Linked DNA regions of Homo sapiens: region 1 is linked to region 2. The links come from fine-mapping of genetic effects on gene expression. A gene starts in region 2. The other region holds a variant in brackets. All regions are shown on one strand. Distances are between the middles of the regions. Region 1 has its middle 50 kb from the start of LINC02694. Region 2 holds the start of RASGRP1 (RAS guanyl releasing protein 1).

The links. PIP is the estimated chance that this variant, and not a neighbour inherited with it, causes the effect. A credible set is the group of variants that fine-mapping cannot tell apart.
Region 1: its variant is the best candidate, but not a certain one, in a credible set for the expression of RASGRP1 in whole blood (TOPMed, PIP 0.71).

Annotation. Positions count from the first base shown.
Region 1 is chr15:38,644,080-38,648,474 of GRCh38, forward strand. No RefSeq gene overlaps it. Among named protein-coding and RNA genes, the nearest start is that of LINC02694, 50 kb to the right of the region's middle. The variant G/T (reference allele first, on the strand shown) is at 1,737.
Region 2 is chr15:38,562,770-38,567,164 of GRCh38, forward strand. RASGRP1 (RAS guanyl releasing protein 1) reads right to left here and starts at 2,045. Exons shown (of 17, transcript NM_005739.4): 1 at 1,825-2,045. The coding sequence starts at 1,859. RefSeq lists silencers at 1,342-1,541, 1,552-1,771, 1,802-2,041, 2,202-2,251 and enhancers at 2,109-2,620, 2,462-2,651.

The sequences.
Region 1 (4,395 bases), 81 kb after region 2:
TGTATAATAAATGATATGAAATAGTAATAAATTGATAAGCAGTGATACAAATGAAAACAATAATAGGATCAACAAAATAATGAGTTTTGGGGATGTAATTTCAAGGTGGAATTAAAAATAGAAGAAAACTATTACATGTAGAATAGGAGTTTACTGAATTTAAAATGTTTTAATAGTCTATTATTTATAAGAAGTTAGAAATATTGGTTAAATTAAGATTTCTGTTGATTAATCATATATAAGAATGTTAAGGGTAATCTCAAAATATAGAAATAGAAAATATTGCTTTAAAACCAGAACAAGGCAAAAGAGGAAATAGAAAATATGATAAATCCAACAGTTTAAGGGAAAAAAAGAAAAAGAAAAGAGTAAATAGAAAGCCCAAAACAGAATTACAGAAATAGGTCCAAATAAATATATCACTAATCATTATAAATGTAAATGGCCTAAATTCACCAGTTCAGATACAGAGACTCAGATTCTTTTAAGAAAAACTGACTTTAGGCTGGGTGGGGCGGCTCACACCTGTAATCCCAGCACTTTGGGAGGTGGGCAGATCACCTGAGGTCAGGAGTTTGAGACCAGCCTGGCCAACATGGTGAAATCTCGTCTCTACTAAAAATACAAAAATTAGCTGGGAGTGGTGGCGCATGTCTGTAATCCCAGCTACTCATGAAGCTGAGGCACAAGAAATGCTTGAACCTGGGAGGCGGAGGTTGCAGTGAACTGAGATCCAAGATTGCACCACTGTACTCCAGCCTGGGCAACAGAGTCAGACTCTGTCAAAAAAAAAAAAAAAAAAAAAAAAAGAAAAAACTGACTTTAAAACCTTGATATGATGGTTTCAAAATACAAAAGTATAATATCACAAAAAGTTGAAAATAAAATAGTGGTAAAAGAGATACTATGAAAATACTAATACAAGGAAAGCTCGGGACTCACACAAATATCAAATAAAATAGACTGTAAAATGAAAACATTATGCATGAAGATGATTATTTTATAGCAATAAATAGGAATAACTTTTACAATTAAAACTTTAAATTAAAATCCTGAGTGAGCAAGTATCTAGCAACATGGTCTCAAAATATGTAAACCCCAAACTGAAGAACTTCAAGGAGAAATCGACAAATCAACAACCACAATAGGAAATCGTATTGTATACATTAGTTAGAAATTGATAAATTAAGAAGACAAAAAAATAGGTAAGGGCATAGGAATTTTGACTAATATGATTAACATGGTAGGTATGATGGATATTTATAAAATTCTGTACACATGAATTAGGAAATATATATTCATTTTAAGGGTAAATGTAACTGTTACCAAAATTGATCACATGGATTGAATTGGCCTGGGGTAGATCTCAGGAATCAGTTTTTTTCTAAAGTTCCCCAAGCAATTCTAATGTGTAGTCAGGATTGAGAGATGCTGTATTATAGCAATTTAAAATGCATGGCCTGTATTTTCATGTAATTATGCGAATACATCTTGAAAAAGCTGATGTTGAGAAGAAAAAAGCCAGTTACAAAAGGAGCATGTATTATGTTTATGTCAAATGTTTAAAAACACAGTAGTTTATTTGTGATAAAAGTATAAGTTGTATGTTATAAAAACACAAAAATATGTATGAAGTGACATAACTCTGGGGAGAGAGAGGAGGGAAAGGGTTGGAGAAGGACACTAACTAGACATTGAATTATTTCTAAAAAATAAAATATTTCAAAATATGAAAG[G/T]TCAAATCTGGGCCAGGCATGGTGGCTCATGACTGTAATCCCAGCACTTTGGGAAGCCGAGGTGGGAGGATTGCTTGAGTCCAGGAGTTTGAGACCAGCCTGGGCCACATAGCAAAACCCTGTCTCTACAAAACAACAACAACAAAAGGTCAAATCTGGTGGTTGGTGTATGGAATGTTGTTATATAATTTTGGTCCTTTTGTGTATTTGAAATATCTCATATTTCAAAAATTGAACAAAAAATAAATTCATAGATGAATTAGGTCTCATGTCCACTGTGCAATACAGAGAGCATATCTATTGACCAGGGAAGGAGCCTGTAATTGTTTTTTTTCTTATAAGGTTTCACAGCATGACATTGTCTTGGTGATTCCACAAAGGAGCTGAATCTTTCAGGCTCAAATTTTTGATTTGTCAGCACATCAGTTAAGTGAGAAATAAAACTTTTTTTGGACCTAAATATTCCTCAGTGATAGGTACATTCGCAGACTCACATTACATTGGAAGAGGATCCCTATGGAGATGTTTGCTTAGAGAGCACCAGAATTAGCCTAAGAGGAATTGTTTAAACAATAGCATGTTCAATAGCATCAGGCTCTGATAACCCCTGAGGCAGTTATCTCATAATGGGATTGGCCTTGGCAATATGATTGAAAGTCTCAAATTCCGTTTGCTGAGATTCTCTCGCTCTGAACAGAGCTGAATGAGCAGAGTCTACATCTGACTCTGTGAATATCATTTTTTTGGGCTTTCAAGGCCTTTGCTACCCTCCATACATCCAATCTGGATTCACCACTTTCCCTCTCTGCTCCCATACCTCTTTGCAGACTTCTGTTGGCACTGAGGATGTGAAAATTTCAAATTATGTGTCTGTCTCCCCAACTGGACTGATTGCTCCACCAAAGGCAAGAACCACGTCATTTAAACTTTCCATCCTTTAAGTCCTTGATGCTGGTTGCAGACTATTTTGAACTCTGCTTCTGGGCATGTGGTAGAATTGTACCTCCTGACCCCCTGAGGCCATCTGGCTGGTTCTGTATGAGTGTGATTTGTGCCAACCCTGGGCCGGAGAAGCTGAGACCTTCCCACCCCCTTGGCTATTTCCTTGGCTGACCAGCAATGTAGAGCAGTGAGTGCTCTGTCAACCCAGGGCTCTGAGTGGGCATGATGGAGATGAAGAACAGATTGCCAGCCAACCCATGCTGCATGTTCAGTGTGAGTGTGAAATAATCCTTCTTGGTTTTAAGTCACTATGATGTGGGACTGTCTGTTACCACAACATTAGCAAGTCCATCCCGACTGATACGTATCCCCAGCATCTGGTATGATGCTGGCACCTATAGGTGCTTAATAAATGTTTGCTGAAAAAACTAAACTAGTCTGGGAGAATATTAAATAAAATAGTGTTTGTGAAAGTGTCAGGCATCTAGGGAGCACTCAGTAAATATTAATTGGATCCAAGGAAGGCATCTATATTATGTTTCTTTTTCTTTTTAGAGACAGGATCTTGCTCTGTTCCCCAGGCTGGAGTGCAGTGGCACTGATTAATCATAGCTCACTGTAATCACTAACTCCCAGGCTCAAGTGATCCTCCCACCTCAGCCTCCTGAGTAGCTAGGACTACAGGTGTGCACCACTGTTATGCCTAGGTAATTTTAAAATATTTTTGTAGAGACGGGGGTCTCACTATGTTTCCCAGGCTGGTCTTGAAATCCGGGCTTTAAGTGATGCTCTTGCTTTGGCCTCCCAAAGTTCTGGAATTACAGGTATGAGCCAACCTGCTCAGTCTTAGGTTTCTTTCTAAATGCATACTTCAATTGTGTGTGGGAACGCCTGTCTGGTGGAATGAAAATTAAATTACTAAATTAGATATCATTATCAAGAACAAGAGGAATATCATTTATAGCCAAAGATAAAAAGTGATTACAAAACACATTTCTCAAGCAGAATATTTAATATCTCAAATTAAACAAGCATCCAATAAAAAAGAGTCAGCATTTAAAATTCTGTGGTAGATCTCTTATACTCCAGGTAGGTTGTGTAATTTCTTTCAGAATTACTCATTTAGCTCTTCACTGCCCTCTCCAGGTTCCACAGGTTTTCCTGAGATGGGGAAAGACTCATTTGTTACCAGCAGTGGGGAGTTGCAAGGAGGAGGGATAATGGGTGCTAAAGCATAGGAAATATTTATTTTGAATAGTTTCCTTGGCTTCTGTAATTGTTGCTACTGCCTGCAATGGGCATGACAGCTGAAATAGGGCTTCTTAATAGCTAAACTCCAAGCAAACCTACTTAGTAAGTAAGCAGCCACTAATGTTTATTGAGTATGTAACAATGTCCTAAGAATTTATGAAGGGTGCAAAACATAAATAAAGTTCCTCCCGACAAGGAACTTGTAAAGTACCTGGATGAACTTTGCGTAAGAGGCAACTTGCAAATGTACAAGGGATGATCACTGGTCTGTGTTGGGCAAAGCCCAGGTTGCGTGTGTCGGCCTGTGTGAACACGTATTTCCTTTCTGTATAGAGAATGAATTGCCTCTTGTGTAACTGTGCTAAATGAAGTGCTTGTGTATGTTATCTGCTTTTCTCCTCTAGGAAGAAGAGCTGCCAGGTCCTGGGAGAACAAGAACAGTGCTTTCTCCAAATTTTAACAGGAG
Region 2 (4,395 bases):
TCTTGGTTGGTGACACTGACCATTCAAGACTCCTAATCCTGCCCTGTTTTCTAATTCTGGTAAAGTTTCCTAGTGTCACCAGTAAGAGAAACCGCTTTGTTTCATAAGTGGATTCTTGAAGGTTGATGCTTTTACCAGAACTAGAAGGGATCAGGGTAAAGTATAGGGTAGTAAAAGGGAAGAAAGGGTGACAAAAGCAATCTGGGAAGTATGGAGCCCAGAGAGACTCAGAGGACTAGGCCATGAGAGAACAGGGAGAAGAGAAAGTACTAAAAGCCAAAGTGCAGCCTCAGAGTTCTAAGAAGATGGGGATTATCTGCACCATAGACTAGGAAACCTGGCTTTCTTGCTGTACAGTCTCTTAACTGGTTGCCTTGTGAAAAATCCTCAAATCGTTCTGCCTTTTCTGGTGAAATGGGAGTAGACAAGGATTTATAAAATGCTCTATTATAGGCAGGTCGAAGGTGTTTTAACAATCCATAGAATGAATGGCCTCTGAGTCTGTAAAGGCATATTTTTTAAAAAAATACAGTAGCCAAATGTTTTCCTGTAAATGAAAAAACCAAAACCCCGAGAGAAACAAATTAACTTGAAGGTGTTTTCCAAGCCTAAAAGTAACCAAAGCCCCATAGGTTTGCTGAAGGAGACCGTCAAAACTCTAAACTGGTTTAGGTGAAATCCTCTCCAGGCATAGGTATCTCAGTGGAGGTCAGTTTCAGGCTGAGCTTTTTATGAAATCCGCCTAGAAAAGTAAGAGATGAAATGGAGCAAGGGAACTGGAACTTCCACAACTTTCTTTGCAGTGGAAGGTGACTCTCTTGACTTCTAGTATGGATTCCTTCCAGTCCCGTCCTCTTCCCCTTACAATACTCAATTTAATGTACTGAACTCCTCCTTCTGAATCTAGTGCAAAGTACAGTGGTGGACCCTCAGGGGATACCTGGATGGGGAGAGGCAGGGCGTGCATACAGGGCCAAGAATCCTTCGTTCCTGGGATTATAAGCACGGGAAGTCCAGCATCGCAAGCTTCCTGCCGCTACTGGGTATGGTGGTGCAAGGCACAGTCCCATCAGTGTCGATGTGAATGGAGTTGTGAAGTGCACAACTTGTCCAGCCCCTACGCCGAGGCCAGGCCTTTGTTCATGCAGTTGCCTAGTTCTGGTCCTTTGGCTACAAACTCAAAGCTGCCTGGCCAAGAGCCCTTTCACTCACTGTCCCTCTTTCTTCAACTTCTGTTATCCAAGACCCTCTATAGAATCATAGTGAGGGGGAGAGGAGTGCAGCTTCCCATACGGAAGGCGATATGTTTCCCTGACCCACGGATCTGGAAACTTCCGTGGGGCAGGGGCAACCGAGGGGTGCCACCTCTGCGGGCTCCCTGCAAGCTCCTCGGCCGTTCTGGGCAGGGCCGGGAGGGGCCACCAGGTGGCGCAGCCGGAGCCCAGCGCCCCAGCAGGTGCGGGCAGCGCGGAAAGTCCGCGAGTGGGAGTCCCGATGCCGGGCGTGGAGATGTGGGGGAGGAAGTCGGCGGGCGGGCGCCGGCTCCGCGAAGAGCTTCGGCCCTAGCAGATCTCACCGGACGAGCTCTGGCCTCGCGGCCGCCCCTCTACCACCCCTCAGCCCCAGCTCCCTCCCCGAAACCCCGGGCGCAGCGCGCCGGGCGTTCTGGACACGTCCGCCCGTCGCGCTGGTGTCCCGGGACTCCGGCCGACCCCGGCCCCCCTCCGCCCTCAACTTCCCTCGGGGTGTTGGGGCGACGGGCAGGGGCCTCTTTCCCAAGAAAGGACACAGGCGCTCCCGAGGGCCACGGCCGCCTCTACTCACCGCGGAGCCTCTCTCGCCTTGCCCAGGGTGCCCATGGCCGCGGCCCGCGCTCCCGGTGCCGGCTCACCTAGCGCGGCCGGGCGCGGCGCATCGCCCCCGCCACCACCGCCGCCGCCTGCCGGCTCTCTCCCCCCCGGGCCTCGTAGCCCCGGCGCCCGCCAGCCCTCGAGCCCGGCGAGCCCGACCGAGGTGCACCGCAGGCACAAACTTTGTGCGAGCGCGCCCCCTCTGCCTCGCGCGCGCGCTCACACCCGCCTGGCAACCACCTGACACGCTGATGCTGGCGGCTGCAGGAAACGTGCGGCGCCCCGCCGCTCTTCCCCGAAACCTGCCCCCTTTCCGCGGGTGCCCCGGCCTGCGCCTCGCGCGGTTCTCTCACCCCTGCCCGCCTTCGACCTCTCTTGGCCAAAGGGTTAAGTCTCAGGGGAGTTGGAGAGGAGCGGGCTCCCGGCTACCACGCCCGCGCCTTGCAGGGCACCTGTGCCCGTCGACCTCCACCTCAGCTCGGGAAACGGGCTGCGCCTAGCGGCTCCCATGGGACCCCCTTTCCCGCAGCCGACCCGCAGCTTCCACGCCTCTTCCTGCGGCCGCTGCTCGGAGCACTGCAGTGAGGACGCCTTCTCCCCTCCAGGGCCTCTCCTGTATATATCAGAGCGCGGAGTCCGGCAGGGGAAAGGAACGGAAAGACAGTTGTGAAGTTGCCTTAACCTGTGCCCTGGGGTCTCTAGGTAGCCGTCTGCAGGACTGGGCCGTAGACATGTGCCCTGTGCCCTGCGCCCTGCACCTTGGACGAGGGCTGCCTGTGTGGAGGTGCGCTCCACAGGCGTGATCCATATCTGGCCCAGACGCGGCCGCCTGGCGTCGGTGGGTGTAGGAGATGTGGGGACAACTTTCATACAACGTCAGTGCGCACAGAAGACCTGGCCAAGAGGGGCGGCCCATCCGCTGCTTGTCCAGGTGATAGTGCTGATAATCTCAATAGCTAATGATTGAGTGCGGTTGTGCTAAGTGCTTTCTATACATTACCTCATTTAATCCACTCTCCCTGATACAAAGAGATCACTGTTGTAAAGATGAGAAAATGAAGGTTTAGAGAATGCTATGCCTTAGATCATACAACTAATAAACAGCAGAGAGACCTCTGACTTGGACTGAGGTCTGTCTGACTCCCTGTAATCACTGCTGGACTGCCCTAATAACACACTCATTATCACGGCCACAGACCATAACTCTAGCCACAGTCATAGTTGTCTTCCTGGCCATAGTGTTCTGGACTTTAAAGCCTTCCTCTGTTTCATTTATATATTTCCTTATATTTATATGCTACCTTGTCCTTAAAACAGAATTCGAGATAGCTTACAAGAGCACATAACCTACAAAAAGAAGTGTGTGAAATGAAAAATGAGGCACACAAGATGGAGCCAAAAATGAACATCATTTGAAATAAATGCATCTCATAGAGTCAAATACCCTTGCTACAGGTGGGACCAAAATTTGTCTCCTGCATTTCTAGCAGTCAAGTTTAAAGAGAGGCCTTGTCTAAAGTTCAATTCCTATCACATGCAAGACCAAAAACAAAATTGCTCAAGAGAAGATCCCCCTTTCTTGATACTGAGACCAGCAAGAAATTTCTCCAGAGAATCCTCATGAACACTGGGTGATATAAAGAACCAAGTCCTCAGTCACAGCCACAGATGCAGAAGGGGCAGGTGAATGTCAGGAGAATATTAAATGATGACACTCTTTCTCACTCACTGGGTCTAAGGCTCAAACATTTTTAGAGTTATCTATTATACACCCTTCCTCATGTAAGCCCTACAACCTAAACAACCAAGTTGGCGGATGTCTGAGGATGGTAAAGATTTGTATCTATATATGAATCTATCTGACTATCTCCCAACAGTCCTAAGTTTGCAGTCTTAGACTTTGTTCACAGAGATCTTCTCTTATTACCAGGTGAACAATTACTTTTCACTGACCCCTCTACTACAGAATGAGCTCTTTACCCTACTTAAATCTATAATATTTACACTTTCAATTGCCACATAATATTCTGTGTCCCTGTCTTACCTCCACAGCTAAACTGTAAATTGTCCGAGGTCAAGAATCAGGTCTTATGCTTCTTTAGCTTCCACAGCTGCCAACTTGAGGCAGTACCTGTGGGACATTACTAATGAACTGCTGTGGATTTGATTTTGAAAAGCAAAATGTGCTGACCTCAAAGAAGAAAATAAGATCCTTCCTGATTATTTCCGGAGAAAGGGTTTCAGTTTTTCTTTGAAGTCCGCTGTCTATGGCAGGAGTGATAAGCTTACTGGCACTGTCCCCGGTGGCTTTCGTGGGATCCCCATCACAGGTTATCCGAGGCCTTCGGTATTTCTCTATTGCTTCACCCTTGAAAATAGAGCCCCTTCCATGCCATTCATTGCACTGAGTCTTTGGACAGCAAAATCTTTGTGTGTGGCAGGGGAATAATCCAGCCTTATACTGCATATGCATAGGTATGTATGCCAAATGGATGCCTTTATGTAAATGCATCATTATATTTATATGTAAATATACATATATGCA